Homo sapiens: one gene and its partners. The protein of the gene in region 1 interacts with the protein of each later gene in a pairwise test. Each region holds a gene or a part of one and is shown in the gene's direction. Other genes may lie near its edges. The genes, in order: THRSP, WT1, BCAR3 and LSP1.

What was found.
Region 2: the proteins of THRSP (region 1) and WT1 interact in a two-hybrid assay, tested with the Homo sapiens proteins (one large-scale study listed by BioGRID and IntAct).
Region 3: the proteins of THRSP (region 1) and BCAR3 interact in a two-hybrid assay, tested with the Homo sapiens proteins (one large-scale study listed by BioGRID and IntAct).
Region 4: the proteins of THRSP (region 1) and LSP1 interact in a two-hybrid assay, tested with the Homo sapiens proteins (one large-scale study listed by BioGRID and IntAct).

What each region holds. Positions count from the first base shown.
Region 1 is NC_000011.10:78,060,185-78,068,970, forward strand, and holds THRSP (thyroid hormone-inducible hepatic protein), read left to right. Parts: upstream 1-3,676; 5' UTR 3,677-3,697; coding exon 3,698-4,138; 3' UTR 4,139-4,157; intron 4,158-7,474; 3' UTR 7,475-8,167; downstream 8,168-8,786. UniProt on the Homo sapiens protein: Plays a role in the regulation of lipogenesis, especially in lactating mammary gland. Important for the biosynthesis of triglycerides with medium-length fatty acid chains.
Region 2 is NC_000011.10:32,388,664-32,395,520, reverse strand, and holds part of WT1 (Wilms tumor protein), read left to right. Parts: intron 1-2,765; coding exon 2,766-2,855; intron 2,856-3,456; coding exon 3,457-3,549; intron 3,550-6,341; coding exon 6,342-6,463; 3' UTR 6,464-6,857. UniProt on the Homo sapiens protein: Transcription factor that plays an important role in cellular development and cell survival. Recognizes and binds to the DNA sequence 5'-GCG(T/G)GGGCG-3'. Regulates the expression of numerous target genes, including EPO.
Region 3 is NC_000001.11:93,672,784-93,680,785, reverse strand, and holds part of BCAR3 (breast cancer anti-estrogen resistance protein 3), read left to right. Parts: intron 1-536; exon of another isoform or gene 537-557; coding exon of another isoform or gene 558-582; intron 583-5,844; coding exon of another isoform or gene 5,845-5,855; coding exon 5,856-6,172; intron 6,173-8,002. UniProt on the Homo sapiens protein: Acts as an adapter protein downstream of several growth factor receptors to promote cell proliferation, migration, and redistribution of actin fibers.
Region 4 is NC_000011.10:1,854,142-1,862,143, forward strand, and holds part of LSP1 (lymphocyte-specific protein 1), read left to right. Parts: intron 1-5,322; exon of another isoform or gene 5,323-5,395; intron 5,396-8,002. UniProt on the Homo sapiens protein: May play a role in mediating neutrophil activation and chemotaxis.

The sequences.
Region 1 (8,786 bases):
AGAATCTGCTAGAAAGAAGGCAGTGCCTGCTTATTTTATTATTTTATTTTATTTTTTGTTGTTGTTGTTGTTGTTGAGATGGAATCTTGCTCTGTTGCCCAGGCGGGAGTGCAGTAGTGCGATCTAGGCTCACTGCAACCTCCACCTCCTGGGCTCAAGCAATTCTCCTGCTCAGCCTCCCGAGTAGCTGGGATTACAGGCACCCACCACCACGCCAGGCTAATTTTTTGTATTTTTAGTAGAAACAGGGTTTCACCATGTTGGCCAGCTGGTGTCGAACTCCTGACATCAGGTGATCCACCCACCTCGGCCTCCTAAAGTGCTTGGGATTACAGGCGTGAGCCACCGCGCCTGGCTCAGTGTCTGCTTATTGAGTCCCGCAGTCTCCTAGGCATTTCATAAATATCATCTCTCACCCCATCACACCCGTAGGGAAGAGTCAGGACACATTTCAACTCCTCTTTGCCAAGGAAGGAATAATGTGTGTTCCTTGGCTTATTGCTTTACCGTCTCAGGTCTCAGTTTCCTCATCTGTAAATGGGGTCTACCTACCACATACAATTGTTGTTCTGCTCTAAGAACTTTGTATATTGCCGGGCGCGGTGGCTCACACCTGTAATCCCAGCACTGGCCATCATGGTGAAAGCCCATCTCCACTAAAAATACAAAAATTATCCAGGTGTGGTGGAGGGCACCTGTAGCCCCAGCTACTCGGGAGGCTGAGGCAGGAGACTAACTTAAACCCAGGAGACGGAGGTTGCAATGAGCCAAGATCATGCCACTGCACTCCAGCCTGAGCGACAGAGTGACACCCTGTCTCAAAAAAAAAAAAAAAAAAAAAAAAAAGCTCAAGGTTAAAAAAAAAGAACTTTGCATATATAACTTAGCTTAGAATAATATGTCTTCAGTTATTGTTTGCCCTTATCATTATTACAACATATGAGGATGTCGAGGCTCAGGGAGGCTGGTGCTCTCTGTTTCCCTCCACCACTTGCAGTACACAGAGGGTTAAGGTGGAAGCTTTGCCCTCTGCAGCTGGCCCAGACCTGGATTTGGCTGCCTGTTCTGCCCTGGAGAAGCAAGGCCAACTGTCAACACAGGGTGACTTCAGGTCATCTGTGGCTATGCATGGCCAGCCTGCCAAGGGGACTTGACAAGAGGGAAGATCACTGCTTTCCTCTCAGGTCTGATGGAACTAGGGCAGGCCTACTCCTGTCATGTCCGAGCTATGAGACCTTGGGCAAGTACCTCTCCCTTTCTGAGTCTCAGTTTTGTCTCAGTTTTATCTTGGGATACTTATGTTTTTCTGTCTCAGGGCCCCTGTGGAAACTGAGTTGGCACACCACTCTGCTGTGCCAACATAAGCATAGTTAAGGCCAGTAACTCTGGGTGGGGTAAATATTACAATTTAAAGGGGAGGGGTTATAGGGAAGTAGAATATTTTTTTCTTTTTCTTTTTTTTTCGAGACAGGGTCTTGCTGTGTCACCCAGGCCAGAGTGCAGTGGTGCCATCACAGTTCACTGCAGCCTTGACCTCCCGGGCTCAAGCAATCCTCCCACCTCAGCCACTTGAGTAGCTGAGACCTCAGATATGTGCCATCACACCCAGCTGATTTTTTAAAATTAATTTTTTGTAGAGATAGGGTCTCATATGTTGCCCATGCTGGTCTCAAACTACTGGGTTCAAATGATCCTCCTGCCTCAGCCTTCCAAAGTACTGGGATTACAGGCATGAGCCACCATGCCGGGCTGGGAGGCGGAATTTTGTTCAGTCTAAAGATAAGCTTTTTCATAGCTCTGGCTGTAGTGGGAGGGAGCAGAGGAGTGAATGATTGTCAGTTGGGAGGGTGCAGAGTGGGCTCCTGCCCTAGGGTGGAGGTGAGGGTGGCTTAGGTGAGACAACACAGAGGCCCTGTTCAGCCCCACGTCCCCTCCCTGTGCTCCCTCCTCCTCTCTCCTCTCCTGCAGGCGTGGGAGGTATCATCATTCAGCAGATTTCACCAGAGGCAGTGGAGGAGGCAGGTACCTGAGCCAGAATTCAGAATGTCTTATTCTCCACTTGACTCTGCCACTAACTTGTTGTGCAACTTTGGGCCTTTCCCCAGGCCTTCATTTTCTTTTCTTTTCTTTTTCTTTTTTTTTTTTTGAGGCGGAGTCTCGCTATGTTGCCCAGGCTGGAGTGCAGTGGTGCAGCATCATCTCGGCTCACTGCAAGCTCCACCTTCTGAGTTCACGCCATTCTACTGCCTCAGCCTCCCGAGTAGCCGGGACTGCAGGCGCCCACCACCACGCCCGGCTTATTTTTTGTATTTTTAGTAGAGACAGGGTTTCACCACGTTAGCCAAGATGGTCTCGATCTCCTGACCTCGTGATCCACCCGCCTGGGCTTCCCAAAGTGCTGGGATTACAGGCGTGAGCCACTGCGCCCGGCCATTTTCTTAAATATCTAATAAAAAATATATAGCAAATGCAGTTTGTAAACTATGACAATATGACCACGCAAAAGATTATTATCTTCCAAGACTGCTGGTCCAAGGAAAGGTCAGTAATAAAGTGGAAGCATTGTAGCTTATGGAATGACTGGTTAGATTTGGGAGAAGCCTTAGCAATAATCTAGAATCTGCATAGATAATACATCTGAGGATTGGGCTTTGTGGTTTACAAAGCATTTTTTTTCCTCTTTTGATCCCAGCCGCTTGTCTGGACTGATACAAAGCATTTTTATTAGTTTGTCTTATTCAATCCTCACACCACCTCAAATTTACAGAGGATATGGATCTGGTTAACTTGTATGACTATGTAACCTCATGTCAGTCCACAGCACTGCCTGGAGGTGGGTAGAGGTGGTCCTGGGCTGGAATCCCAGCCCCAGTGGGACCTTGAGCAAGTTACTTTAGCTGTCTGCACCTAAATTTCCTCACTGGCAAAACAGGAATACTGGTGGTTCACACCTGCAATTCCAGCACTTTGGGAGGCTGAGGTGGGAGGATTGCTTGAGTCCAGAAGTTCAAAACCAGACTGGGCAACATAGCAAGACCATCTCTACAAAAATTAAATAAATAAAACATTTACAAGGGTTGTGGTGAAGATTAAATGAGATCACTCACGAAAAAGCTCAGCAGACCCTGATGTGCAGTAGGTGCTCAATAAATGTTAGCCAGCAAAAAACAAACAAAAAAAAACTCAGCTAGGAAATTGCAGTACTGGGCTTCTGACTCCAACCTCAGTGTTCCTTGCCCCACATCAAGCTGTTTCACTTCAAATCCTCTCCATTTCACAATGGAGTCACCCCAGGTTGAAGGAGTGAACTGTGCTTTGGAGGGCTGCCCTAAGCAGGCAGCAAAGAGACAGCTTGGTCTCCAGTGACCTGAAAGAATTATTTATTGCCCTGAAGTCCAGTATACCAGTTGCCAAAGGGAAAAGCTTCCTTCCAACTGGCTCAGCAAGCTGACAGAGGAAGAGTCGGGTTCTTGCTGGGGCAGTCATGCAGAGCTGGGATGACAAGTAGAAGGCTGGCAGATCTGTCTCTGGGCAGATGGATCACCTGATACAGATGCTGGGGCCTGAGCCCTGGGATTGGCCCAAAACAGGGCTGTGTTGACCCAACAGCTGGGCATTGGCATCCTGTCAATCTGCCGAGAGCCTAGAAATAGTGCGGGGGCAGTCTGCTGGTCTCATTGTGTCAGAGGAAGCAACCATGCAGGTGCTAACCAAGCGTTACCCCAAGAACTGCCTGCTGACCGTCATGGACCGGTATGCAGCCGAGGTGCACAACATGGAGCAGGTGGTGATGATCCCCAGCCTTCTGCGGGACGTGCAGCTGAGTGGGCCTGGGGGCCAGGCCCAGGCTGAGGCCCCTGATCTCTACACCTACTTCACCATGCTCAAGGCCATCTGTGTGGATGTGGACCATGGGCTGCTGCCGCGGGAGGAGTGGCAGGCCAAGGTGGCAGGCAGCGAAGAGAATGGAACCGCAGAGACAGAGGAAGTCGAGGACGAGAGTGCCTCAGGAGAGCTGGACCTGGAAGCCCAGTTCCACCTGCACTTCTCCAGCCTCCATCACATCCTCATGCACCTCACCGAGAAAGCCCAGGAGGTGACAAGGAAATACCAGGAAATGACGGGACAAGTTTGGTAGACCTTGGACACTAGGGAAGGTAATGGTGGCCATGCTGGTGGGTGTGAGTCTACAAAGGGACATTCCAGGAGAGGAGAGGGGGCAGTGGTGCAACCCACTGGGAGAGGAACAGCCTGACTTTCAGACAGAGCCACTCTTGGGTCAGGGTATTGGGACCACAACCTAGGAGGGCCTAAGACTAGGCCTGTGTTACTATCCTTCTGACCTCAAATTGGCAATTGCAATGAAGTGATATGGAAACAGAGGGAAAAGTGGCCTGTGAGGGCATATCTCATATGCACATATATGTGTTTGTGCATGTGTGCATTTATTAGTATGTGAATGCTTGTAAATGTGTGAATTGAATGAGTGTGTTCTCATCAGTGACTTTGTTAAGAATTTAATTGAAGAGGGGCCAGGCGCGGTGGCTCACACCAAAGCACTTTGGGAGGCCGAGGCGGGCGGATCATGAGGCCAGGAGATTGAGACCATCCTGGCTAACATGGTGAAACCCAATCTCTACTAAAAATACAAAAAATTAGCTGGGCGTGGTGGTGGGTGCCTGTAGTCCCAGCTACTCGGGAGGCTGAGGCAGGAGAATGGCATGAACCTGGGAGGCAGAGGTTGCAGTGAGCTGAGATTGTGCCACTGCACTCCAGCCTAGGTGACAGAGGGAGACTCCATCTCAAAAAAAAAAAAAAAACTTACCTAAGGCATGCACATTGATTTAAGTGAACATTGTGAATTCCATTTGTGTGACAGTGTTTCCCAACATTTTTTCAAGTCACAGAACATGGAAAATTATTATATGGCACATGGGGATACATAGGTGAGGCTGCTTGCAGTACTGCTACAACAGGCTGGGGGTACTCTGACCATCCCAGGTTGGAACCCACCAAACGGGAAGCCGAGGGACCAGTCATGGCACTCTAATCCATTCCAGGCAAACTGGAGTATGCAGACATGCCTGTTGGGAAGCCCTGTTGTATGTACATATGAATATGTGTTCCAGTCTAAGCCTACATGTCTATGCACAGAGGGGCTGGGGTGGTGAGTGTGGATGAGCAGCAAGCTAGACAAGCAGGTGGTGGCAGAGGGTAGGAGGTGGGAAGGGGCCCTAGCATGGTCACCACTAGTTCACTCATGGATAAAGACTAGTATTAATAGAAATTGGACCACAGCACCTGCCAGTTTTGATTCTGTGCCACCTGCCAGCCCTGCTCCCACAAACTGGTCTCATTAGTTGTAAACAACATCCACGTCCATTGCAATCTCAAAACCACCTGATGCAGCTATGTAGGAAAAGATTCTCATCCCCAGTTTACTAGTATGGAAATTGAAGCCAGAGAGGTGAAGTGACTCACCCAAAGTCACACAGTAAGGAGACAAAAGTAAGACTGGCCTCAACTTTGAGCTGAGTGTTCTTTCCATCGTACCCACTGTCTGCCATTTTGTGTTATCTTCATAATCTGTGTGAAGGCTGCTCTGTAATTATGCGGAATAAACATGGGACCCCCAAACACAGAGCCTATGGAGAGCTCTGCTCCAGGCATTTTCTCAGCCATTTTTCCTTCTCCCGCTTCAAACCCAAACTGTCAACCTCAACCCTTCTTCCCTCTCCCGTTGAGGCTCCCTGAGTTGCCTCACAGAGGTTCTTCTTGAATTAGATGGGGCTGTGTCAACAGCTCTGGGTTCACGTTCTGATTCTATCACTAATGAGCTGTGGGGCCTTGGGCAAGCTAATTCATTTCTCTGGGTTTCAGCTTCTTCACTGAATAATAACAGTGGTTGTAAAACTAACAACTGGCATTTGAATAGTTTTAAGATCACTTTGCATATCCATTATCTAATGGAATTATCATCCCCCCCCACCTTTTTAAATTTTGAGACGGAGTCTCACCCTGTCCCCCAGGTTGGAGTGCAATGTGCAATCTCAGCTCACTGCCACCTCCACCTCCCAGGTTCAAGAGATTTTCCTCAGCTTCCAAAGTAGCTGGGATTACAGGCGTGTGCCACCACACCCAGCTAATTTTTTTAAAATCTTTAGTAGAGACCGGGTTTCACCATGTTGGCCAGGCTGGTCTTGAACTCCTGACCTCGTGATCCACCTGCCTCGGCCTCCCGAAGTGCTGGGATTACAGGCATGAGCCACCGCGCCCAGCCTATCATTCCCTTTTGCAGATGAGAAAACTGGAGGCCTGAGAAGTAAAATGAGTCCAAGTTTACTCAGTAAATAACAGCCAAGATGTGAACCCTGGCCTAATTAGTCTAATTCTTTTCCTCTACAGTGGTATTCCTTAGAGCCTTAGACTTTTGCAGAGTGGGCTCAAAGTGGGAACTGGGCATGGCAGAGTGGGTAGAAACCACACTCTGACTCACTCAGTTGCTTCAAAGGCCAGAGCAGCAACTCTACGCCATAACGTTTCAACACACCCTAACCTGATTTTCATTCAGAGGCAATATGGTATAGCAACAGTTAAAAATCTGGGCTCTTGTTCTGGCTCTTCCATTGACTTCTGTATTATCCTAGACAACTTTTTTTTTGAGATGGAGTCTCACCCTATTGCCAGGCTGGAGTGCAGTGGCGCGATCTCAGCTCACTGCAACCTCCACCTCCCGATTCAAGCAATTCTCCTGCCTCAGCCACCCGAGTAGTTGGGACTACAGGTGCACGCCACTACACCCAGCTAATTTTTTGTATTTTTAGTAGAGATGGGGTTTCACCATGTTGGCCAAGATGGTCTCAATCTCCTGACCTTGTGATCCTCCCCGCTCGGCTTCCCAAAGTGCTGGGATTACAGGCGTGAGCCACCGCACCCAACCTTTTTTTTTTTTTTGAGATGGAGTCTTGCTCTTGTCACCCAGGCTGGAGTGCAGTGGCGCCACCTTGGCTCACTACAACCTCTGCCTCCCAGATTCAAGCAAGTCTCCTGCCTCAGCCTCCCGAGTAGCTGGGATTACAGGCTCACGCCACCATGCCTGGCTAATTTTTGTACTTTTAGTAGAGACAGGGTTTCACCATGTTGGCCAGGCTGATCTCGAACTCCTGACCTCAAATGATCCACCCACCTTGGCCTCCCAAAGTGCTGGGATTACAGGCGTGAGCCACCACGCCCGGCCCTAGACAACTTATCTTACCTTTCTGTATCTGTTTCCCTGTTAGTAAAATATAGCAGAGAAATCAAATGAGTTATTCCAGCTCTGACAACCTAGGATTCTCCTTACAGTGCTGAGGCACTGCCAGTTTTCCAACAGCAACATCAGCATTGTTCTTCCTGCTTCAATGGGCATGTGACAGTATCTTGGTTGTTTGAATTGATACTGACTTGGCCTTTTAAAAATTTCTTCACTCCACAGATCCCTTCACATGATAGAAGACAGACTCTTTGATGAGGTCGGCGGAGCAGTTCACTAGCCAATGATGAGAGCAGAAAGGCCTAGACCTGCAGCCAGAAGTGAAGGCGGCTCAGTTCTCCGGGATGCTTCTCTACCTCCTGAGCACCAATTCCTGGATTCCAGTCACTGGCTCACCTTTAGAATGTCTGTTGCTATTCACTGCTCCCCTCGCTCCTCTTAACAGCTTGGGGAGGTGACCAGTGGTTCAGGAGGGACTAGACAATTACCTGTCCAGTGTGGTATGGTAGGAAGAGTGTAGGTGTTGGCACGTGACCAAAATTCACATCCCTCCTCATGGCAGTCATTCAGTATGTGTACTTGTACAAGTTATTTAACCCATTGGAGCCTAAATTCCCTCATCTATAAAATGGGGATAATATTATCTACCTCACAAGCTTATGAAAACTAAACATGATGAATCAAAAGCACTTGGCATGTGAGGGCTATTAAAATAGCCTGATTTTTTTTTTCTCCCCCTCTCCCCAATGTATTTGCTCTGGCCCTTGCTTTTTACCCTCCAGAGCTAAGAGGTAGCAGAGTCTCTTGGGATGAGTGATTCACCCTCTTACTTGGCGACCACTGATGAGATCAACAACAGGTGAACTATAAACCTATTATTTATTGCAGAACTAATAAAAAATCCAAAGCCTTGTATTTGTACATCTTTATTATTTCTAAAGCACTTTCCTCAACCTAATTTCAGTTTTTACAATTGGTACTCAAGAAAATAGAGACAGAAATCATTTGATTTTGCCCAGAAACCATCTGCTTATATTTATAAGGCCACCTAATTTGAAATCACATATAGACCAGGCGCGGTGGCTCACGCCTGTAATTCCAACACTTTGGAAGGCCAAGGCAGGTGGATCACAAGGTCAAGAGATTGAGACCATCTTGGCCAACATGGTGAAACCCCGTCTCTACTAAAAACACAAAAATCAGCTGGGCGTCGTGGCATGCACCTGTAGTCCCAGCTACTCGGGAGGCTGAGGCAGGAGAATTGCTTGAACCCAGGAGGTGGAGGTTGCAGTGAGCCGAAATTGCGCCACTGCACTCCAGCCTGATGACAGAGCAAGACTGTCGTCTCAAAAAAAAAAAAAAAAATACCACATATACTTTATCTCCAAAACCTAATCTGATTATAAATTCTAAGCTAGGAAACAAAAACTTTTGGGACAAGTACTTTTTTTTTTGACGGGGTCTCCTTTGTCACCCAGGCTGGAGTGTCACCCAGGCTGCAGTGAACTGTGACACAACCACAATTAATTGCATC
Region 2 (6,857 bases), about 46 Mb from region 1:
CAGCCTGGGCGACAGAGCAAGACTCTGCCAAAAAAAAAAAAAAGGAGAGAGAGAGATGATGATTTTTTATCTTTGAAGATACGCCAATGAAACTGGATTTTCCCCCAGGTCAGAGAGGCTGCTTCTGGGAAACAGAGAACTGGCATTGTTTGGTGTTGGCCACCTTGAATGTGGACAGCCATGTCACAGAACGTTTACTCTGGGCCTTGTGGGCACTAGGTGGGAGTGTGGGAGTGTGGTAAAACCCAGGTTTTCCTACAGAGGAGCTACTGCTGCCTTTTCCACAATCGAAGAACAGCATTATTATAGGATCACTGTTGCAACTGTGTTATTACTGCTGATTTTGCTCTTGGGAAGCTGGAGAAAAAAGTGAGCTGCATTCAGATTTCCTTGGACCATTGAAATTTGCTAATTCACTGTGTCCAGAGGATGCAATTCTGGTGTCAATCTGAGTTTGCACTCAGTGGGCCACAGACTTTGAGGCTAAAAAGGAGGGGACCAGTGGCATGTTATGTTTTTACACATTTCCCCAAATGGGATCATTTGAAAAGTGACTGTCAAGGTTATAAGGAAAACGAGAAAGTAAAGTCCTGCCTGAAAAATGCAAGGGAATAAATGAAGGCAATATGGTTGTAGAAACTTTTAGTGAGAGAGAAGCACTTAGAATGCAGTGAGGGTTAGACAACTGTGTGAAGGGAAGGCAGTGAACAAGACAGCCAAAACCCCAGACCCACTGGAGCCTTTAAGAAACTCTTCCTTGCAGAAGATGAGGGCAGGTTGGTATTTAACAATCCTACAGTCCCCCTTGAAAGAGAGCAATATTTTCTTATTTATTTATAACAACAGTACAGACTGTTATATTAAGTACTTTTTGGGTGTCAGGCTCTCTACATGTATATTTCATTTAATCCTCACTCACAAAACATTTATGAAGAGTATAGGATATAGCAGAAAGAGGACTCAAACTCCTTCTTTTTAACTGCAGGTTATAATCCTCCTTCTCAAAGAGTTCCTGGTTTGTTTGGGAGCTAGGATATAAAGAAATGAAAAGTGACTGAGAGAGTACATGATCATGTACTAAATCAGAGACAGGAGGTACCGAGGGGTTTGGAGGGTATCAGTTTGAACTAAGGTCATCCGAGAAAGTTTCTCAGAGGAAGAACAGCTTGGGTTAGCCAGTGGAGGCTGGTAGTTTGGGCAGAGAAAGTGATAGATGAGCAGAAGCTCAAAGGCAGGGGAAGGAAATCAGACTCAATAGGGGTAACATCTTCTCCAGCTCACAGAGGTGAAACATAAGGCACCAACCTGGATACAAATACAAAGAAAGGGGCCAGGTGCAGTGGCTCACACCTGTAATCCCAGTATGTTGGGAGGCGTAGGCGGGAGGATTGCTTAAGGGGTTCAAGACCAGCCTGGGCAATATAGTGAGACCCTGTCTCTAAAAAAAATATTTTTAAAAATTTAGCCAAGTGTGCTGGTGTATGCCTGTAGTCCCAGCTACTCAGGAGGCTGAGGTAGGAGGATTGCTTGTGCCCACGGTTTCGAGGCTGCAGTGAGCTAGGCTCACACCACTGCGCTTTAGTCTGGGCAACAGAGAGAGACTCTGTCTCTGAGAAAAAATAAAAATAAAAAGGCTCCAGCCCTTAGGATTTTCCAACCCATTGAAGAATTGTAGAATTGTAGACCCAGACACAGCTCACCACATTAGACAGCCTGGAATAAATGTCGTAATGAGGGAAGGAAGGGAAATTGGCCCATGCAGTTTCCAAGCAGGCATTGCAGAAGAAGGAGACACCCAGGAGACTTTTCGATGTGGAGATAGGGATGGGGGACATTTAGTGTGAGCAGAGTGCAAGGAGGACTTCAGGATGTGAGCTCTGGCATAGTGGGGAATAGAGATTCATGAGGGAAATAGCCCAGGCTTTGAGATTGGAAAGGTAACAGGGGGCTGCCTTTGCAACAGAAAGACCTGACTGATTCTAGAATGGCTTGTTTCCATCCCAGATGCCTGTGACTCAGGATTCTCCTAAGAAGGTGGGAAGGCCTGGGGTTGCTCACTTCTCTTGGGGCTCAGGTCCCAGTATTTGGCTGAACTTTCTCTAGTGAGGACAGGGGTGAGGCTTCTCCATTCTGAGACAGGAGGTTGGGTAATCCCACTACTGACTTCTCTTGGATAAAGCACACCAAAAACTTTCTCAGTGCTTTTGGTGTGTTTTGAGGGTCTCACAACCATGGAGTCATATTTGCTTGATGCAAGAACAAGGAGTCAGTAGCAAAGAACACCAGATCTTTGGGCCCTAAAACATAAAACTCTTATTTCATGAGGTTGACCTCAAGGCACATGCATCCCAGAATTCTGCCTCAGATTCTGCCTGGGAGTTAAAGATTTTGTTTTTTATTTGCTAATAGTTTTTGAGCACGCCTTCTATGCCAGGCTCTGGGCTGAGCCCTTTATGTGAAGGTCATAAATCCTTTAAAGTTGTTGGATTATTGGACCCATTTTACAATAAAGAAACCACACCTCACCCAGGGCTTTTTTTTTTTTTTTAATGGCAGAGCTAGATGTGAGCCTTGGGGCAGAATCCTCTGGCCCCTGAGCTCCCATTCATTTGTAACTTGCAAGTTGGGGATCATCCTACCCTAACAAGCTCCAGCGAAGTGCCTTAGGCATTTTGGGATCTGTTCAGTCCTAGTAGGAGAGGTTGCCTTTAATGAGATCCCCTTTTCCAGTATCATTTTCAAATAGAATATGTGTCTTCCCCAAGGTGAGAAACCATACCAGTGTGACTTCAAGGACTGTGAACGAAGGTTTTCTCGTTCAGACCAGCTCAAAAGACACCAAAGGAGACATACAGGTTTGTAGGTTCACTTCTCATTGCTGGCAGCTGTGTTCCCTTGGGCTAGGGTTGATTTCATGATTCTCTTTGTTGTTGAATATGAATGAGAGAGTCAGCCATGTGTTTAGTTTTTCCAGTATTTTCCCCCCATAATCTCTGGAGATGTTCCTCCTCTTAAATAAAGAAAAAGAAAGAAAAGGAAACACCCCACATTTCCCCTGCAAACCACAGAACAGTGAGATCCCACTAGCAGTGGGCTGATGATACACTGAGCATCAGCAAAGAATGAGGGTGATGGAGAGCGGAATCCAATTTGTAGCGTGTGATTCACTTTTCCTGTCTCTGACACAGCTGAGATCTTCCAGCTGGTGAGAAGCTGGACCTCTGTGGTTAAGGAATGGTTGTTCCCAAGACAGAAGCAGGTCCTTGAAGATTACTGTGCAGAATCAGTGATTCTTGTTGGGCCTGGGGGACTGGGGAAATCTAAGGGTGAGGCAGATGCAGACATTGCAGGCATGGCAGGAAATGCTGGGCTCCTCCAGCTGCCGGAAGTCAGCCTTGTGGGCCTCACTGTGCCCACATTGTTAGGGCCGAGGCTAGACCTTCTCTGTCCATTTAGGTGTGAAACCATTCCAGTGTAAAACTTGTCAGCGAAAGTTCTCCCGGTCCGACCACCTGAAGACCCACACCAGGACTCATACAGGTAAAACAAGTGCGTAAACTTTTCTTCACATTTATTTTTCATTATTTTTTTAAACTATTGTGGAATGAAATTGTGATGAGAGGGATTGGAAAAGACTAGTGTAAAAGTTCTAAGGTTTAGACTCAGTTGAGAGAAGGAATAGTGCGTGGCTATCTTTAAATAATAAATAATAACATTTTTTAAAGAAGGGGAGGGTGGAAATACAGAGAAGGAGAAAGATGGGAAAAGAATGGCTGGAGTGTGCAGAATGAAAATGAAGAGATAAGCCAGGTCCCTACTGTTTCCAGTTTGTTGCATCACACATTTTGTTACTCTCTTTGATACGATAATCAACTTTACAGAAAAGCAGCAGAAATTCTAGCAAGCCAAATATTTATTCTTCTGAGAGCACATGTTTAATGGCACTATTTTCAGAGAACTGAGTCCTTGCTCTGTTAAAAGTTAATGCACCAGGAGCGGTCTTGGTTTCTGCTGGACCAGTATCAGTGTGTGGATATTATTTCCTTCATACTAGTACAGAGAGGAGAATAGGGCATTCATTTACTGGCTGCTGAAGGTTTTTGCTTTCTGCAAGGCTGGTGTGATTCATAATAAAAATAGCACCACCTTTGTTGCATATTTTCTACCTTTGGAAAGAGCGTTAATATTTAGCTTATCTAAGTCTATCTTCACAACATGCTTGTAAGTAGAGTAAGGTAGGACCGGCTGTGGTGGCTCATGCCTGTAATCCCAGCTATTTGGGATGAGGTGGGTGGATCACTTGAGCCCAGGAGTTCAAGACTAGCCTGGGCAACATGGCAAAACCCTGTCTCTACAAAAAATACAAAAACTAGCTGGGCATGGTGGTGTGGACCTATAGTCCCAGCTATTTGGGGGAGGCTGAGGTAGGACGCTCACTAGACCTTGCTTGGGAGGCTGAGGCTGCAGTGAGCTGTGATCCCACCACTGTACTCCAACCCAAGCAACAGAGCAAGACCCTGTCTCAAAACAAAACAAAACAAAACAAACAAAAAAAAATGAGGTAGGCATGTTTTATTCCCATCTTACAGATGAGGAGACTGAGGCAATAATAATTCAATGGCTTATCTAAAGTCACAAAGCTAGTAAGGAGCAAATCCAGTTCTGTCTGCTTCCAGCCCACCTTGTCCCACTTGCTTCTTTATTGGAGAAGGGGCAGATATTTACTCTGCAGTCCAGGGAGCATGGAGAGTCAAGTAGAGAATCAAAGTCAGCAAAGCTGAACACCACTGAGAGACTGAGAGGAATGAAGATGACAAGAGACAGGGTTGGGATTAGTCCATTAGGAGCCAGCCCTTAACAGCACTGCTGGAGGTGGGGTTGGAGAGTGAGAGCCAGGCCAGGAAGAGCAGAGGAACAGCGAGTGAAGGAAAACATGACATCACAAACCCCTGAGCAGCCCCAGATTCTTCGCCCAAATTGGCTGCATTTAAAAACAGAGCCAAGGCACCTGTGGCCCATGGTTGGCAGGATGGGATCTTGCTTCCCTTCCTCAGGTGCCTTTGATGCTTCTTTAACTTAGTCCTGAGCTCATAATTCGGTGGCAAAGTGTTATAGTCCCTTTGACACGGCTGTCACACTCCCCAAGTAAGTGTGACATGACCTGTTTTGCCAGCAGACTGTTTAATACCACATTTGATTGGCCTCCAGTCTGACCCTGGGACACCAGCCCTCCTGGGACATTTCTCAGTGCTTGTCCAAACCAGTAGTTCTCAGAGAAGGCCAAGTGGGACCAGCAGTATCTGAGAAGATCCGTCAGGTGGCACAGGGTTTAGCTTCTGTGCATTCTTCCTTAAGATGGAGCTGCAGCTGCTTTTCCATCATGGCTAGGCCTGGGAGGTGTGATACAGGGAAGAGCACGGGCTCTGGAATTCGACAGACCTGGAGATTTGAGTTCTGCCTGGATCTGCCCTCAATAGATGTCCTACCTCATCTGTAGAGTGGGGATAATAACGCTTCCCCTACGGGCAGTTGTAAGGAGTACATGAGGTTGTGTGTGTGCGTGTGTGAAGCCCAGCACAAGGCTTGGCATATGTTAAGCATCAAATAAATGGTAGTTATTCTCCCTAATGAGAATGAGGCTTGGAAAGAATGTCTGAGGGCTCTTTGGGTGGAGAAGCCTCAATCTTTTGGCAAGCTTATTAAAAATCTAAGAACCACGCCCCAACTAGAATCTTCCATATAACAGGATTATGCTCTCAGTAACACTTTAAGAGAAAAAAAAAAACAACACATAACATGTAAACTGGTATCAGTGATTTATTTTAAAGTATCCAGCCCATCCAGGGTATCTACACAGATAGAAGTGTTAAAAGCTTCAGTCACAGCTGAGATCCCTGGACAGTGATCACTCAGTAATACCCAGGGTAGATGACCCAGAGGCTTCTGCAGCCCAGTTCATCTCAGTTCCCAACTTACTCAACAAGGGGGAGAAATTTACACAGTTCACAAAACATTCTATCAGCAGAGACTGAAACAAACGTTTTTCCCCTTAATTATGAATTGCTCAGACATTTCCCCCAACTTGACTCATTCTTTATCTCCCACTTTCCAAGTTTTCTGACCTAAGAATATAACTTTTTACAATATTTCGATCCTTAAAGCCCCAAGAGGTGCTGCTGTTTCAAGGCTGCCTGGGAAATGAGCTCAGTTGGTTAGCTCAGGGACAGAATGATGGGAAATTCAGAGTGGGTGCCTTGTGATGACTTCACTCGGGCCTTGATAGTTGAACTTGTGCCTGTCTCTTTGTTGCAAGTGTCTCTGACTGGCAATTGTGTCAACAGGTGAAAAGCCCTTCAGCTGTCGGTGGCCAAGTTGTCAGAAAAAGTTTGCCCGGTCAGATGAATTAGTCCGCCATCACAACATGCATCAGAGAAACATGACCAAACTCCAGCTGGCGCTTTGAGGGGTCTCCCTCGGGGACCGTTCAGTGTCCCAGGCAGCACAGTGTGTGAACTGCTTTCAAGTCTGACTCTCCACTCCTCCTCACTAAAAAGGAAACTTCAGTTGATCTTCTTCATCCAACTTCCAAGACAAGATACCGGTGCTTCTGGAAACTACCAGGTGTGCCTGGAAGAGTTGGTCTCTGCCCTGCCTACTTTTAGTTGACTCACAGGCCCTGGAGAAGCAGCTAACAATGTCTGGTTAGTTAAAAGCCCATTGCCATTTGGTGTGGATTTTCTACTGTAAGAAGAGCCATAGCTGATCATGTCCCCCTGACCCTTCCCTTCTTTTTTTATGCTCGTTTTCGCTGGGGATGGAATTATTGTACCATTTTCTATCATGGAATATTTATAGGC
Region 3 (8,002 bases), on another chromosome or scaffold:
TTCCGTGGGGCGGCGGGTCGGGTCATGGTTGGGGTTAACTCGCTTGAAGCAAGGTGCAAAGGAGAAAAACCATTTTCCTAACCTCATATCTGTTTTCGCTTAAAGCTGTTAGCTGAGATGGAAAGTAGAGCCGTGCATTCAGATTGTTTTAAACCTTGACTTTATCTCCCAAGGCTACACAGACCTCCCCAAGGAAAGTACGCTGGCCGAGGGAAGGTCATTTTGGGAGCTGATAGCCTCCCTTGTGTTGCCTGGGACTGAGTTGAGATCCTGGAGGCTGGGAGAGGCCTCAGTGCTGGGGGTGGGGCCCAGCTCAACACAGGTCCAAGTGGGAAGGGGCTACCCGGGTAACAATGGGAAGCCCACAGGCAAAGCGCTTGTCTGCGGGCGTGCCAGGGGGTATTGAGGATAACGTAAAGACCTTGCCAAGCCAGGGGATCCCACACCACTCCAACTCCAACTTTCTCTAAAGTGCTGCTGAGAAGGCTGGCATTTCCAGGATGACTAACCAAGGTCTAAATCTCCTGTTCATATAGGCAGAACTGCTTGTCAAATGGATGCTAATCTTAAGAACCTTATCGGGTAAATCCTGTACTGTGTTGCTTGAAATACAATCCATGGAGGAATTATTCATACTTGAATCATTTGGCTAGACTTCATAAGTTTACTTCAAAAATAAAGAGATACTCTTAATTCCTAAACCCAAGCAAAACTTCATTTTAAGTGGATAAGCCAATTGAATATGTGTGGTTGTTTCATCTCCTCTCTCCATCTGACTCTCCAGAGAAGTTATAAAACTACAGATCCAAGTTGTAAATTCTCTGTCATGGGGCAGCCGAGACGGTTACATTTCCAGAGTTTAAAATATAATGAAAAGTTCTTAAAGCTCACATCAGATAACCATTATGAGTTAAACTTGAAAATATCCCGTTTCAGAAATAAAAGAGTAAAATCCAAACAAGTGGGCTGCTTATCTCTGCCTCAGCTTGCAAGATCATCAGTTTCTTTGAGACATCATTGTAAAGCAAGTGAGTTGGGCCTCAGTTCACAAACATTTCAAAGCCCAGCGACTGACCAGGCCCAGGAAGGCAGCACATGTGGTAAAGTTTGTCAGCCTCGCTCTTGTTCCTGATGTTCACATGAGTCTCAGATTTTCATATCAAGATGCAGAGTCTTTGACTTTTGTATAATATTTCAAAATCTGGCATTAGACTGAGTCAGGACATTGTGTTTGTTTTCCTGCACAGTAGAGAGAAGTCAGATGGCCAGAGTCTCACCTGGGCTTTTTTCTAAAGACTGCATGTAGGCTCACTTGGTTTGCCTGTACGTGTGTCTGTGTCTGTGTCCGTGTCCATGTCCTACTTGGCTTGGTGTCTTTGCATCTATTGTTCTAGGTTAAAACGTTTCCCTCCCCATCCTTCCCAGTTGCAGTCTTCATTTGTGAACTCTCAGAGTTACTTCCTTTGTGAACCCTCAGTATAACAGAGATACAGTGACTCTTATCTGACAAGATAGATAAGAGCAGCCCCTGTCCTGCTTAGAGGGGACCTGCTATTTACTAAGTGTTTGCAGTATTTCAAGAACTTTGTATACACAATCACTTTTAATCTTTACAACAATCTTATGAAATAGCTGTTAAGTCATTTTTTAAAATGAGAAACCGTCAGGTTGAGTAACTTGTCCCAGGCCATACAGCTGGTAAGTCAGTGGCAGAGTAGAGATTTGAACCTGTAGATATCTGCCTCCAAAGCCTAGGTTCTGAGTCATACCATTTTATTTTTAAAAAATCAAATGGTACATAAGAAGTATATAATGACTAGGGACATTGAGACAGAAATATTTCCAAGTGGAGAAAACATGGGAGCCAGAGGCTGGAGACTTGGGTTTAGTCTCCATCAGCTGTCATTCCAACCGCTTGTTCCTATGGCAAGACCTTTGCATTTGCCAGATCCCTTGCCTGGAACCCCCTTCAGACCTTTTTTTGACTGGCTCCTTCCCTTGCCTTTTTTCAGGTCTCATGTCATTGTTACCTTTTCAGAGAGGCCTTCCCAGTCCACCCTAATGTAAAGTAGCTCTCCACCCGCAACAGTCATCCTTTGTCAGTTCATCCTGTTTATATTCCTTAGCGTGCTTACAACTTGGATGTTAACTCATTTTCTTGTTTGTATAGGTTGGATTCCTCCATGAGAGCAGGAGCTTGTCTAATTTATTATATCCTTAGCCTTGGTACACCATAAGCCCTCAGAGAATATATATCAAATGAACATTTATTTCCCTTATCTAGAAAAATGGACTGGGAATTACCAGTACTTATGGTCATAATTTATTGTCTGCTTCCTCCAGAGTATTATTAGCTTCATGAGGACAGACCACTTCTGTCTTGTTTAATGCTGTCCCCAACACCTAGCATAGTGCCAGCCATAAAGGAGACCCTCCATGAATGTATGCATTGAAGAATCAATGTTTCTATTGATTGAATGATACTCCTTCATCATCATTGAATTCTGTTTTGCAGGTAAACAATTATGACTCAATTGCTGTGTACCAAAAAGACTCACTAATCCAGTGGTTCTCAATCCTGGCTTCACATTGGTCAATACTGGAGACTGATGCTAATGTCCCGCCCACAGAGATTCTCATTTTATTGTTCTGGGCTGAGGCTTGGGCATCAGGATTTTAAAAGCTTCCCAGAGGATTCTTATGTGTAGCCAGGTTGAGAACCAATGGTTTACGTTTTTATAGTAGAACTCATTCCTTGCTTTGGTCCTTATAGGCTTGAAGAAGCCATGGTAAGAGAGAGCAGGGGTATAATTCATGGGTATTGTATGATTCCTGACAGTTTAAGAGGTACTTCACAGCTGTTATCACATCTGATAATAACAAGTTAAGGGATCTACTCTCTGGTTTAAATATTGCCTTTATGTTGATGATTCCTAAAAATCTCCATCTGCCCTCACTTCTAATTGTGCATACCAGTATCTAACCTCCTCTTAGACCAAATTGTTTGCTGATACCTCACATGCAGCAGCTCCAGTGCTGTGCTTGGTTCCTGCAGGGGTGGGTCCCCTTCTGAAACTAGTTGGCATGTTACAGCATCGCACCACCTTCTGTGGCTGTAGGCTCCTTCCTTCCAGCCAGATGCCTCAAGCTCTGATGTCTCATCACTCTCTCCTTTCTCTCCCTTTACCCAGCTGCTGCCCCAGGTCAGAATTCTTCATTGTTCCTCCATGGGTTTCACCATCAGCCTCAGTAACCTCCCTGCCTCCTTTTTCTCTCCCCTCCAGAACAACCAGAGTCACCTACTTGGGTACAGACTGGGTTCGGTCCTTCCCTTCCAGATCTTCCCTAGCACTTCCAGTCAAGTCCAGACACCTTGGCAGGGCCTTCAAGACTCCATGGTCTGATGCTAACCTAAGTTGCTTCTGGGAAATGCTTCTCGGCTTCACTCGAGCCACAGCACACAACTGGGAATGTCCTGAGCCTGTGGGGTCACTTCCATGCCTTTATGCATCTGCCATCCTCCCGGGAGGCTTTTCCCCACATGTTAACTTTTCAAAATGCTTTGTCTCTATTGTTGCCCTCTCTGAGCCTTCTCAAGTCCTTTTGTCAAAATTAATTGTTCCTTTCAGCATAAGGGCCTCTATGAATTATTCTCTCTTAGAGTTCATAGTCAGGTATTGGGCCTTAGGCATCTTTGTTTCTCCAGGTGTCTTGTATGAAATAGGCACTTAAATGTTTGTTGAATTGAAGGTAAGAAGGGGAAGTATTAACATCCCTTGTTATTGGAGAATAAATTGAGGTGTTGGTAACTTGAAGGACATTTTAGAACACTTTAGGACAATCTTGAAGTCTAAGTAGATCTTGGGGAAGCAGAGAGGAAACAGGCTGCCAAAGGCAGTGGTGCTAGGGTGACTTTTGCCCATCATGCTATTGGAAATAGATTTGATCAACAGTGTGGCCCTATGCACATGAAGAAGTTCTGTAGGGTGCTGCAGGCCTCCCCACGAGGTTCTTTGAAATGACCCAGTCCTGTCTGTGAGAAGTCACAACTGTGGTGTGTATGTGTGTGTGTAGGGTGGAAGAATCCTAGTCGGTTTACGTCACTTGTGTTCAGGCGGTGGGGCTAGGGAGTTTGGTTTCCTTTCTAATAAGGATGGTTAGCATTGAGCAAGTGCTGACAGTGTGCCAGGTACTGGCCAGAGCTGGGAGGGGCTGCACAGGACTCTGTCCTATTGTTCTGCACCCACTGTGAGCAGACCTTCTGTGTGGTCCCAGTTGGACGTGGAGCAGGCAGCCCCCAGAATTACTGGATTTGACAATGAACCGAGGACAGAGTTAAGATTGTACACCTTCAGTAAAGATGCTCCTTCCATCTCACCCCCAGGACTTCTGTACTTTCCCCTATCTCATGTGGAAGCAGTGGAACGTGTGTGTTTTGTTGTACACACACATACAAACACATGCGTTTTCTTTACACACTCTAATGTCATTGTCTCGGCTCCACTTCTATCAGCTTGTGGAGGGTTGCATTCTTCTTGGTTGTCTTCAAACCACGTCCCAAGTCCGCAGTTCCTTTGTAGAACTGACTCTGCAGTAGTGCTATTAAGTGAGGATTTTCATGCAAAGCTCTTCCCTGAGTAATGCAGTGGAAAGGGTGGTTTGTGAGGAAAGAGGGCTGCTGGGTTGGAGAACAGACTAAGGGGCAGCTCTCCTCACCAGCCCGTGGGAAGGGCTGTATGTTGGGCTTGGCCACCCTGCAGTGCTGTCCAGACCAGAGTCTGATATCATGACTAGTATAAGACAGATCCTGGAGCCTCTATCTCCAGGGGCCAGCCTTTTTTTTTTTTTTTTTTTTTTTTTGTCTCCTATTTCTTTTCCTCTGTGTGTTGGCCTTAAAAATGTATTATATAATTTGTCTTAGGCCAAAACCATAGTTTGCTTTGGAGCTGGAGGCACTGACTCTGCTCAGGGTAAATGCTTCTACTCATGGTCCTAGATAGGAGAGAGTGTCGGGGCTACTTGCTGCACACAGCCTGACGTGCCATTCTCCTTTCCCTTTCCATGCTTCCTTTGCCCCCCACCATTTTTTTTCTTTTCTTCTTCCCTTCTCCTGTCTCTTCTTCCCCGACTGTACAGGCACCCATGGGCATTACCTAACCCTGCTGGTGGCAGGCAGATCCTGACCCCTCTGTGGGGGCCATGTACATGCAGCCCCCACCCCAGTGGCTTTCCTCTGCAGCTGAGCCTGCTGGTGTATGGCAGAATGGCCCACCTCCTGACCCTGACCCTAGCCCGTGTTCACTAATTAGAGTGCATTGATTTATTTATAAACACTGGGTCTTTGCCAGAAAAATTCTGTCCCATCCTGTGTAGCACAACTGAGGACTGGTCTGGCACTGAAGACAATTCTAGCAGCTAAAGAATTTCAATAATCCCTGCCTGTTCTTATCATTTACAGGGCAGTGAAAATAATGTGAGCTAATTATCTAACAGTTTATAATATTTTCTTTCGTACATTTATTACTGCAACTATGAGTCCTCTCTTAATCATCTTTTTTTGCTGGTTGTGCATGGCTTATATGCCTCTAACAACTCTGAAAGTGTTTGCCCTCTTGGTTTTGCTGCCAACCCAGGACAATTCCTATGTAGGATCATTTCAGGAGGAAGATAAGTAAACTTCCCATTCTTATTAGACTCCACTAGTGATGCCATTAAATGTTGATCTGTTAATGGTCTGTGAATATTTCATTTTATGTGGCATATTTCCATTTCCTTTTGTAAGTAGGAAGTCAGTTCTTGTGACTCTCATAGATTTATACCTTCACTCTTTTCTTTCCCCCTTAGAGTTGAGAATTATGGCTGCAGGAAAATTTGCAAGCCTTCCCAGAAACATGCCGGTGAATCACCAGTTCCCCCTGGCCTCATCCATGGACCTTCTGAGCAGCAGGTCCCCTCTCGCTGAGCATCGCCCAGATGCCTATCAAGATGTGTCTATACATGGCACCCTTCCACGGAAGAAAAAAGGTCCTCCTCCCATAAGGTCCTGTGATGACTTCAGTCACATGGGCACCCTCCCCCACTCCAAATCCCCACGGCAGAACTCGCCTGTGACCCAGGATGGCATCCAGGAGAGCCCATGGCAGGACCGGCACGGCGAAACCTTCACCTTCAGGTAACTTCTGTAATTTCACTAGTGAAGATGATTTGTCTTAAACAGCTTTTTAAAAGGTTTTTATGGCCGGGCGTGGTGGCTCACACCTGTAATCCCAGCACTTTGGGAGGCTGAGATGGGTGGATCATGAGGTTAGGAGTTTGAGACCAGACCAACATGGTGAAACCCTGTCTATACTAAAAATACAAAAATTAGCTGGGCATGGTGGCATGTGCCTGTAATCCCAGCTACTCAGGAGGCTAAGGCAGGAGAATCACTTGAATCCGGGAGGCAGAGGTTGCAGTAAGCCAAGATCGCTCCACTGCACTCCAGCCTGGGCAACAGAGTGAGACTCCGAAGTTTTTATTAGGAAAAACATCAAACATACACAAAGTTGAGCGAATAATTAACTCCCATGCACCTGTCAGCCGGCTCCAACAGTTACCAGCTCAAGGCCAGTCCCGTTTTGTCTGTACTCCCACCTACTTCCCTCCTTTGGTATTATTTTGAAGCAAATCTCAGATTTCATATTATTTCATCTGGAAATATTTTGGTATGTTCCTTTCAAAGATAAGGACTCTTATTTTAAAAACTGTATAACCACAATGTAAAAAAAACTATAACACCTAAATAAAAACCACTTCTTAACATTATGTAACATTTGAGGATATTTTAAAATCCAGCTTCCTCTCTTAAGTCCCTTAAAAGAAAGCCCAAGTATTTTCTTTTTATCATAGCATCAGATTCTGAACTATGTCCATCCACTTCTATAGAGATGCCAGGATGTCTATAAATTAGACCCCATATCTCCTTATATTTAGTTGTCAGCATGCTGAAATAAAATTTTATGTGGATGCACCAGCAGGTCAGCTTCAGAATACTTTAGGACAAGAATTGATTTTTCCCTCTCTGTGACAGAGATCTGGGTAAATGAGCCTTATGGTTGTAAATGCTTTTTCTCTGGGTTTGTAATGGGCCTGGCTGTGATTGGTTTCTGCCTGTTAGAGCTAGTTTGGAAACTGCACTCCTTTTCCTGTTGGGGAAGATCAGCAGCCTGTGATGCTATCTGGTAAAGAATGGGACTGTTTCTTTTGTTATCTCTCTTTTTGTCCAAGCTTGTCGCAAAGCCACTTGGATCCTAGCTCATTTATTTGTTCAATATTTATATATGGAGCACCTATATTAGAGTATGTTGATTTCATAAGCCCCAGGGCTTACCAGGAAAATTCTGCTCAGTCCTGATTATCTTAAATGAAGGGCTGGTCCAGCATTGAAAACATTCTAGCAGCCAAATTATTGAGCAATCTGTTCTTGCCCTTTTATAGGGTGGTGGAAATATGTGGACTAACAGGGTAGCAGTGGAGCATCTGAAGCAATATCTTCCCAGAGTTTACATTCTAGTGAGCGCATTAGGTAGTATATACAAATAAATAAGACAACTGCAGATTATACCAAATGCTATAGAGGAAATGGAGTGATATGCTGGAGATTTATTGGAGGTGGTACGTTTTTGGTAGGATGAACAGGTTTCTGAGATGATATTTAAGCTCATATTTGTATAATGAGGGAAAGCAACCATGGGCCTTCCAGGCTGTTGCAGGCATGGGGAAGTCAAGTGCAGAGAACTGGAGATGGGAGCAAGTTTGGCATGTTTGAAAACCCCAAAAGGAACTGGAATGGCCTGTGGCTGGAGTGTAGCACATTGAGAGGAGAACAGTGTTGGTGTTGGTGCAAAGCTAGGCGAACAAGAGTTCAGAATTATTCTCAGTTCCATAATTGCAGTAGTACAAGAAGAAAATAAGTGGAGGCCCAGATAATCTCCATAGAAACCACTAGAGAGCCCTGAACTGC
Region 4 (8,002 bases), about 76 Mb from region 1:
GGTCAGGGGATGGGGATCCGGTGCTGGGGATAGAGGCCGGCCTAGGAGCAGGTCAGCGGGGGCTGTGGCCTGGTGTGCGGAAGGGAAGGCGCTGGGGCCCAGGTTGCAGAAAGAGTGTGATGCCCGCAGCCACACAGGACGGACCTGAGAGGAGGCCCAGGGTGACGCTCACATACCCCAAAACTGCAGCCAGGGCTGCTACCAGTCTCTGCCTTGGTGCTGACAGCAGAGGGTCCCGGTCTACCCGACCCGGGGCGGTGCAGGGACCACCTCCCGGCCTTCACACAAAGCTCCTGTGCTGTTGGTGGCTGCAGTCACTGTCCTGTGTCTGTGTCCTTGGTGGCCGTCACATTGCTGTGGGTCTGGTATGTGTGAGGGGTCTGCATCTCTGACTTCTTGCTGCCAAATCCCACTTGGGTACAGGTGCGGGGGGCCACTGAAGGGACCCCGAGTGCCGTGAGTGGAGTGGAGGCTAAGCAGAGGCCGGGGCTGGCTGAGGGCTGGGTCGGGACGTCCGTGCCTGTCCCCAGGGAGAGGTGGGAGGATGCCCTGCCCAGGCCGTGTGCAGGGAGACAGGCTTCTGGGTGCACAACAGCTGTGTCCCAGCTGCAAAACGGGCCCTCCTGTCAGCACCACCCCCAGCCCTGGACTAGGTGCTGCTCCTGGTCACCTCATGCCCATAGAAGGGCAGGACATGAGCCTCTGGGCTGGGGCACCCCCGCCTTCCTCCTTGGCCTCATCCTTGGCCACCCCCTCCCAGCTGTCTCAAATGCCCTGGATCCCCCGGGCCAGGAGCGGGGAGGGGGGGTTGGAGCGGGCATGGCCAAGGCACAGATGATCCTGGGGCATCTTGGTGCAGATCCTGGGAGGCCAGGGCTGCACCTGTGCCGGGGCTGTCAGGCGCTCCAGCTGGAGAGCGGCGGTTCTCCTGGGCTCTGCAAAGCCTGGACCCCCTCCTTGGACATCCCCTGCCCCCGCGAATTGCATGGGGTGCGCAGCCAAGCCTGACCTTTCAGAATGAAACTGAGAGCCCCAGTGGGGTAGGCTTCTCATTTCACAAGGTGACTAAGGGAACCGGGGAGTTTCCTGTCTAGGATGGGACAGAAGTCCCCTGCACCCAGGCAGGGATGTATGGCCTGGGAAGCCCCCACACGGGAGTCCCCAGGAAGGCCCAGGCTGGGCAGGCTCAGCTGGGGCTGGAGCAGTGGACAAGACAGCCCCCCGTGCATGTCACAGAGTGCCAGGTACGCCAGCCTGTGACGGTCTCAGGACATGCCCTCAACACTAGGTCCAGGGCAGGCCAAGCCCCTCCAGCTGGACAAGTGGGTCCAGCCCCTCAGACTGTCGCATGATGTGGCCCCTCCCCTCAGACTGCCCGGGACGGGGCCAGATTCCTCAGAACCACCCCTCCATGATGTGGTCTCTCAGATGCCCCCAGGACAGGACTGTCCTCTCCCACGAGGCCTCAGGCCAAAGAAGGTCCCCTGACCCTGGGCGGGGTCCAGGCTCCGCTTCGGCTACCAGCCAGGCTGGACTGCGGTTCCTCCACTCGGGGGCACTCCTGTCTCGCCCCGCTGTCCAGCAGACAGTCACTAGCTTGTCCTTGTCCCTTGGGGGCAGGGACGAGGATTTCACAGAGCTGCCTTGTGGCTCTGGGGGGACTCTCTGGTGACGCTGGGGGATGCCTGCCCTCTATAGCCCCCAAGAGCAAGGCTCTCCCCACACTGAGGAACTATCTGGCCTTGGAGGCCTTGAGGCGATGAGGACGGGGCGTCCTGGTCCACAGCTGGGGAGGGTCAGGTTGCCCTCTCAGACCTTGGGTTCGACATATCCAGATGTTGGAGCCCAGCTCTGCAGGGGTGTACCCTCCCTGGGGTCACACTGCATTTTTGGCTGCAGTGCCTGTCCTTGGCCCAGCTGCCCGGGGGTGCCCACCCGCCCAGGCGTGCCCACCCCATGTCCACACCTAGAAGGCAAGTCTGCCTGCCGCCACCCTGTCCCACAGACACCCTGGCTGCCCTCTCAGTCTGCCCCTGTGTAGCCCAGGCCCCCATCAGGATGACCCTACCCCCAGTCTGTTCCCCATGAGCGACCAGGCCGTGTCTCCCACGGAAAGAACCATTCACCAGCTACAGGCAAACTCCATGCCCCTGGGTGGCCATGCCAGGCCCTCCTGGCCTGGTTGAACTCACTTCCCATCCCACCAGCTTTCCCAGCTCTTCCCAGTTTTGGAAGGTGTCAGAGCCCTGGCACATGCCCCTCCTAGCATCACCCAACCGCCCTGCTCCTCTGCAGACCTTCAAAGGCCTGCCCAGCCCGCGGTGGGAGGCCGCTGCCCAGGGCTCTGGCAGCACCTGCCATGGACAGGGCCAGTCCTGGAGCCCCGCCTGGCCCATCGGAGCCTCCCTCGCTTCTCTGTGTGCTGAGCTGAGTTGGGAAGGGCAGGGATGACCTGAGGGGCTGCTCTGGCAGGGTTCCTTCTGGCCATCTGTCCCTGGAGACCCTCAGAGCTCCAGATTCTGAAGGAGGAAGGGGCTGGAGGCCCCCGGCAGCCCCCTGGAAGTCTTCATCTGAGCAGCAGGAGCCCATGGGATGGAACCCCCCAGGCAGCCAGGCCCTTGGGCAGCCCTCCCGCCCACCTGCCCTCCGAGCCAAGGCCAGGCACCACCTGGAGGATGTGCAATGCTCCACGCTGGGGCAGGTGGCCCTGAGAGCCCCCAGCGGTGCCCACGACTGCTCAGGAAAGAGGGCAGAGCTGGGGACAGTTGGGGAAGCCACCTCAGCCCCAGCCCTAGCCCCACAGGGGCTGCTGAGGGAGGTTAGGATTGAGGGCTAAGCCCTGGGGCTCCCTCCCTACACCTTCCTGTGGTCAAGACCTGATGTCTGGACCCAGGATCCCTGGGGAGGTCCCCTTCCTCCTGCCCTGGGTAAGGGGTCTGAGGCATCTGGAAGTTTCCCAGGGAAGCAGAAGGATGTCTTCTTCCTCGTGGGCTGGCAGGCGCTGCTGTCCACCGACACCCAGCTGGGCTGGTCGCACAAGTGGGAGCATCACAGGCCCCACCCCCGCTGATTCTGGAAGCCAGAATCCTTTCTTCCTGCGCCCCCTTCCTGGTTCCCTCGTGTCTCCTAAAACAATCCTGGAGCCACACAAGGGCAGTGCCAGGAGGGTCTGGGGTCCAGCTGGGACAGGCCCTGGCCGGTGACACCCTGGGGTGGCAGGATGGTGGGCCTCTGCTCCGCTACCCTACGGGCCAGCCTGTCTCCACCTCAGTTCCCTGAGAACGTGCCAGAGGGATGGGTGAGCCCTAGAGAAGAGGAGGGTGTTGGCAGTGGAAAGGGCCCAGTGGTCTCCCGCTCTGAGTCCTCAGCCTGGTGAGGGGTGGGGGCGTGAGCTCTGCCTTGCAGTCCCAGCCCCTGAGATCCCACTGCTGGGGCGGCGGGAGGGGGATGGGCTGCAAGGCCCCAGGGCTGGCCTTGCTTCGGCTGCTATAGGCCCTCGGAGTGCTTTCTGGATGAGTAAGCCGCACCCCTCTGAAGCCTCAGTTTCCCCATCTGCACACTCAGAATGTAGCCACTCAGACCAAGCGTTCACTCCATGCCAGTCTTTGCCAAGCTATTTATTTATTTATTTGAGACAGAGTCTCGCTCTGTTGCCCAGACTGTAGTGCAGTGACACAATCTCGGCTCACTGGAACCTCCGCCCTCCAGGTTCAAGAGATTCTCCCACCTCAGCCTCCTGAGTAGCTGGGATTACAGGCACCTGCCACTGCCCCCGGCTAATTTTTGTATTTTTAGTAGAGAAGAGGCTTTCACCATGTTGGCCAGGCTGGTCTTGAACTCCTGACCTCAGGTGATCCACCCGCCCCAGCCTCCCAAAGTCCTGGGATTACAAGCATGAACCACCGCGCCCTGCCTTTGCCAAGCTTTTTAAACCAAGGCTCTTGTTTCATCCCCCGGAGCTGTGAGGCAGGTCCCTGGAGCCTCCCATTTCACAGACGGAAACCGAGGCTCACAGGGGCCAAGTGCATTGTCCAAGGGCTGCTCCCTGCCTGGGGAGGGGCCTGAGTCCTTGCCCCTGTGGGGTTCGGGTGCTGAGGGCCCACAAGACCTGCGGGCACCAGGAGGGAGCTGGGCTGGGCTGCCCTTCCCGGGGTCTCTCTGACCCCACACCACACACCAGCCACTCTGGACTCAAAGGCTCCCAAGAGCACCAGAGCACTGCTCATGGCCCAAGCTCAGCAAGCACTTAAAGGGACCGTCCCGAAAAGCGGAACTGGGACCGGGCGCTGCAGGACCAGCAAGGTCCTCCACTTCCCTCCAGCCCAGCCCCGCCCAAATCCCAGCCCTCAGCATCTTTTTGGGGGCCACTAAAGACCTTCTGGGAGATGGCAGCCCAGGACCATAAGGCAATCGAAGAGGGCTTTCCACATGCGCTGAGGCAGACAGAACCAGGCCCTGGCTGTGGACGAGGCTGTATTGATACTTAGAAGAGAGGGAAGCGAGCGGGCTGGAGAGGCTCGGCCAGGGGGCAGCCCAGCAGGGCCCCTTCCCCAGGGTTAGACTCTCTACAGCCGGCCCAGCCCCCATCCCCTCCCCAACATCTAGGGACCTGAAAAGAGGTTGGAGGGGCTGCATGGGGGTGGGGTTGATAGGAGATTAGGGGATTGAGAAAGCCAGGCCTCCTAGCCGTGTCCCACCCAGCACGGCCCCACCAGTGCCAGACACAGGCAGACAAGGGAGGAGGGAGATGCTGAGCAGGGGTGGCAGGAGGAAAGCCCCTGGCCCTTTCTTGGGGCCAGGCAAGTCCTATCCTAACTCCATCTGCTAACTGCCTCCAAGCTGCTTGTGGGTTGTCGGGGAAGGGAGTTTGTGGCAGGGAGGGCCTCTGAGTCCCCTGTATCCCCCGGCAGGAGGAGGCAGGCACATGGGCCCCTGACCTCAGTGCTTGGAGCAGGGCCGCTCTGGTGGGGCATTTGTAGGTCACAGCATGAAGGGTTCCAGCATACTTCCTGGGTTCCCAGTTTCCCTGGGAGCAGTGGTATAGACGCAGGGGCCTCTACACACACCACACGCTCAGGGAGAGTGGCTGAGGTGTCCAGGATACTCTGTCCACTGGGGCAGGGGGTGGCTTCTAAGCCCAGTACCCTTCCCAGAGTCCCCAGTCTCCAGCTGCTCATGGGCTGCAGATGAGGATTCAAGGTTATGCAGGGGTCACTCTCCTGCTCCATCCCTGGCAGGTGGGACCTCACCTACTGCTTCTTTCTGCTCCAGAGAAGAGCACGTCCCCCTCATCTCAAAAGTGCCTGTGCTCCTCCTTCCTGAGTGGAACCTACACTTTTGACAGTTTGGTTTCTGAGGCAAGGCTGCCTCCTCCTCCTGTCCCAGGTACCTCCCCTCAGAAAAGCAATGGGACTTGGGATAGAAGGATCTAGCCAATTCGTTCCAGATGAATCTAGAAATAATCCTTTAGCCTTTCTCTTAGACCCAGTCCCAACCAAAATCTGAGCTTCATCACCACCACCCAGCACCCACCATTCACCACCCAGCCTCCAGCCCCCAGCCCCCAGCCCCCAGCCCCCAGCACCCATGACCCACCACCCTGCCCCCTACCCGTGGCTCTGGCCCATTCTCCTGCTGTCAGCAGTGCCTGCTTGAACAGAGGGCCACACTGAACAGATGCATGCTGCAAGCATTTGGAGGCTGCCTCCTCTTTAAATCACAGACATTTATCCACCAGGGATCACTCGGGAGCCAATGAGGCCACCACCCTGACCTCCCCTGTCCCCATGGGCTCTCTCAGTGCTCAAAGCACCTTTCACTGGGATGCTGCTCTGTGAACATACATTCGCAGGTATGTGTCGGGGATGATGAGAATGTGTCAATATGAAGACAGATCCCTGCCCCTGTAGCCCCTGCTTAGGCTCTATTGAGGTGTTCAGCCTCCTGGGCCATGGTGGTCTGCTTTATCCTTGGGCCATGAGCTTATGAACCATGTCTTAGTTGCATAAGAAAGGAAAAATAAAGATTAGAAAAGAATCAATTATGGAGAACAGTATGAATGAATGGAAAGATGAATGAAGAATGATAGGAAGTAGGAACAAATGGATGGATGGATGGATGGATAATTGAATGATGGATGGATGGATAATTGAATGATGGATGGATGGGTGGATGGATGGAGGGATGAGTGGATGGATAGGTGCATGGATCGATGGACAGGTGGGTGAATGGATGGGCAGATGGATGGGGTGGATGAATGAATGGGTTGGATGGACTCATGTATAAATAGAGTATAACTCATGCATAAATAGAAAGAATTATTTAGTAATTGATGAATGGATGAACAAATGAGCAGATGAACAAAAAATAGATGGATGGACAGAAGAACATCTGTATGTATATATGGATGTTTGGATGAAAGAACGAATGGATGGGTGGATAGATAAATGCAGATGTGATATTTAGAATATTTAACAAAGCATGTGGTACAAATATGAATCTACTGGAATGGGTGCTGATTATATATATTCCTATATTGAACTGTGTTGTACCTGTGCATATTGGCTGATCATCAGCCCAACAGCTAAATGAGCAAATGTACCAAAACAAAAGATGAGTGGATTTATGGATGAATGGATGATGGATGAATGGGTGTATAAATGGGTAAATGAATGTATTGATGGAAGGACACATGAGATGGAATTATGTATGGGTGGATGATTGGATGGCTGGAATATGGACATATAAATGATTGGAAAGATTAATAGAAGGATGTCAGGAGAAGTAGACATATGGATGGATATGGATAATAGATGAATAGATGGATACGTGGGTGGATATAACAAGAGATGAGTAGAAAGATAGATAGATAATGAATCAATAGACAATTGAATCCGTGCTGAGTAAACTATTAGAAAGACGGATGTGTGAGTAGACACTACTAAATCAGGAATTTTGCACTCTCTTCCAGGAACACTTCCTCCCATTTCTCTCATCTCTTTTCAAATAAGAAAAGAATTACTTCTTTCCATGAGGCTTTCATATATAAAGACCCAAGGAAAGAATTACTTATTTCCATGAGGCTATCATACGTAAAATATCAATCCCCTCCAGAACTCCATATGCCTTTACCCTGATTTATATTTTCTGTCATATTTTCCATCATCTGACCTTTATTTATTTATGTGTTTGTTCCCACACTTGAAACATGATCATCATAAGAGCAGGGACTTTGTTAATGCTGAATCCCCAGCACCTTCAAAGTGTCTGAATTCAGTACAGATTTATTGAATAAATATATGGAAGGATGGAGAGACAGATGGATAGACAGATGGATGAATGAATGGATGGATGGATAGATGGGTGGATGGATGGATGGGTGGATGGATAGATGCATGGATGAATGGATGGATAGATGGATAATGGATAGATAAATAGATGAATGGTTGGATGGATGGATGAATGGATGGGTAAATGGATGGATGGATAGGTGAATAGATGGATAAGTGAATGGATGGATGGATGGATAGATGGGTGGATGGGTGGATGGGTGGGTGGATGGATGGATGGATGGATGGATGGATGGATGGATGGATGGATTGGTGGATGAGTGGATGAGTGGATGGGTGGATGGATGGATGGGTGGATGGATAGATGGATGGATGAATAGATGGATGGGTGAATGGATGGATGGATGGATGGATTGATGAGTGGATGGATGGATGGGTGGATGGATAGATGGATGAATAGATGGATGGGTGAACGGATGGATGGATGGATGGATGGATGGATTGATGAGTGGATGGATGGGTGGATGGATAGATGGATGGATGAATAGATGGATGGGTGAATGGATGGGTGGATGGATGGATGAGTGGATGGATGGATGGATGAATGGATGGATGAATGGATGGATGAGTGGATGGGTGGATGGACGGATGCATGGATGAGTGGATAAATGGATGGATGAATAGATGGGTGGGTGGATGGGTAAAATGGATGG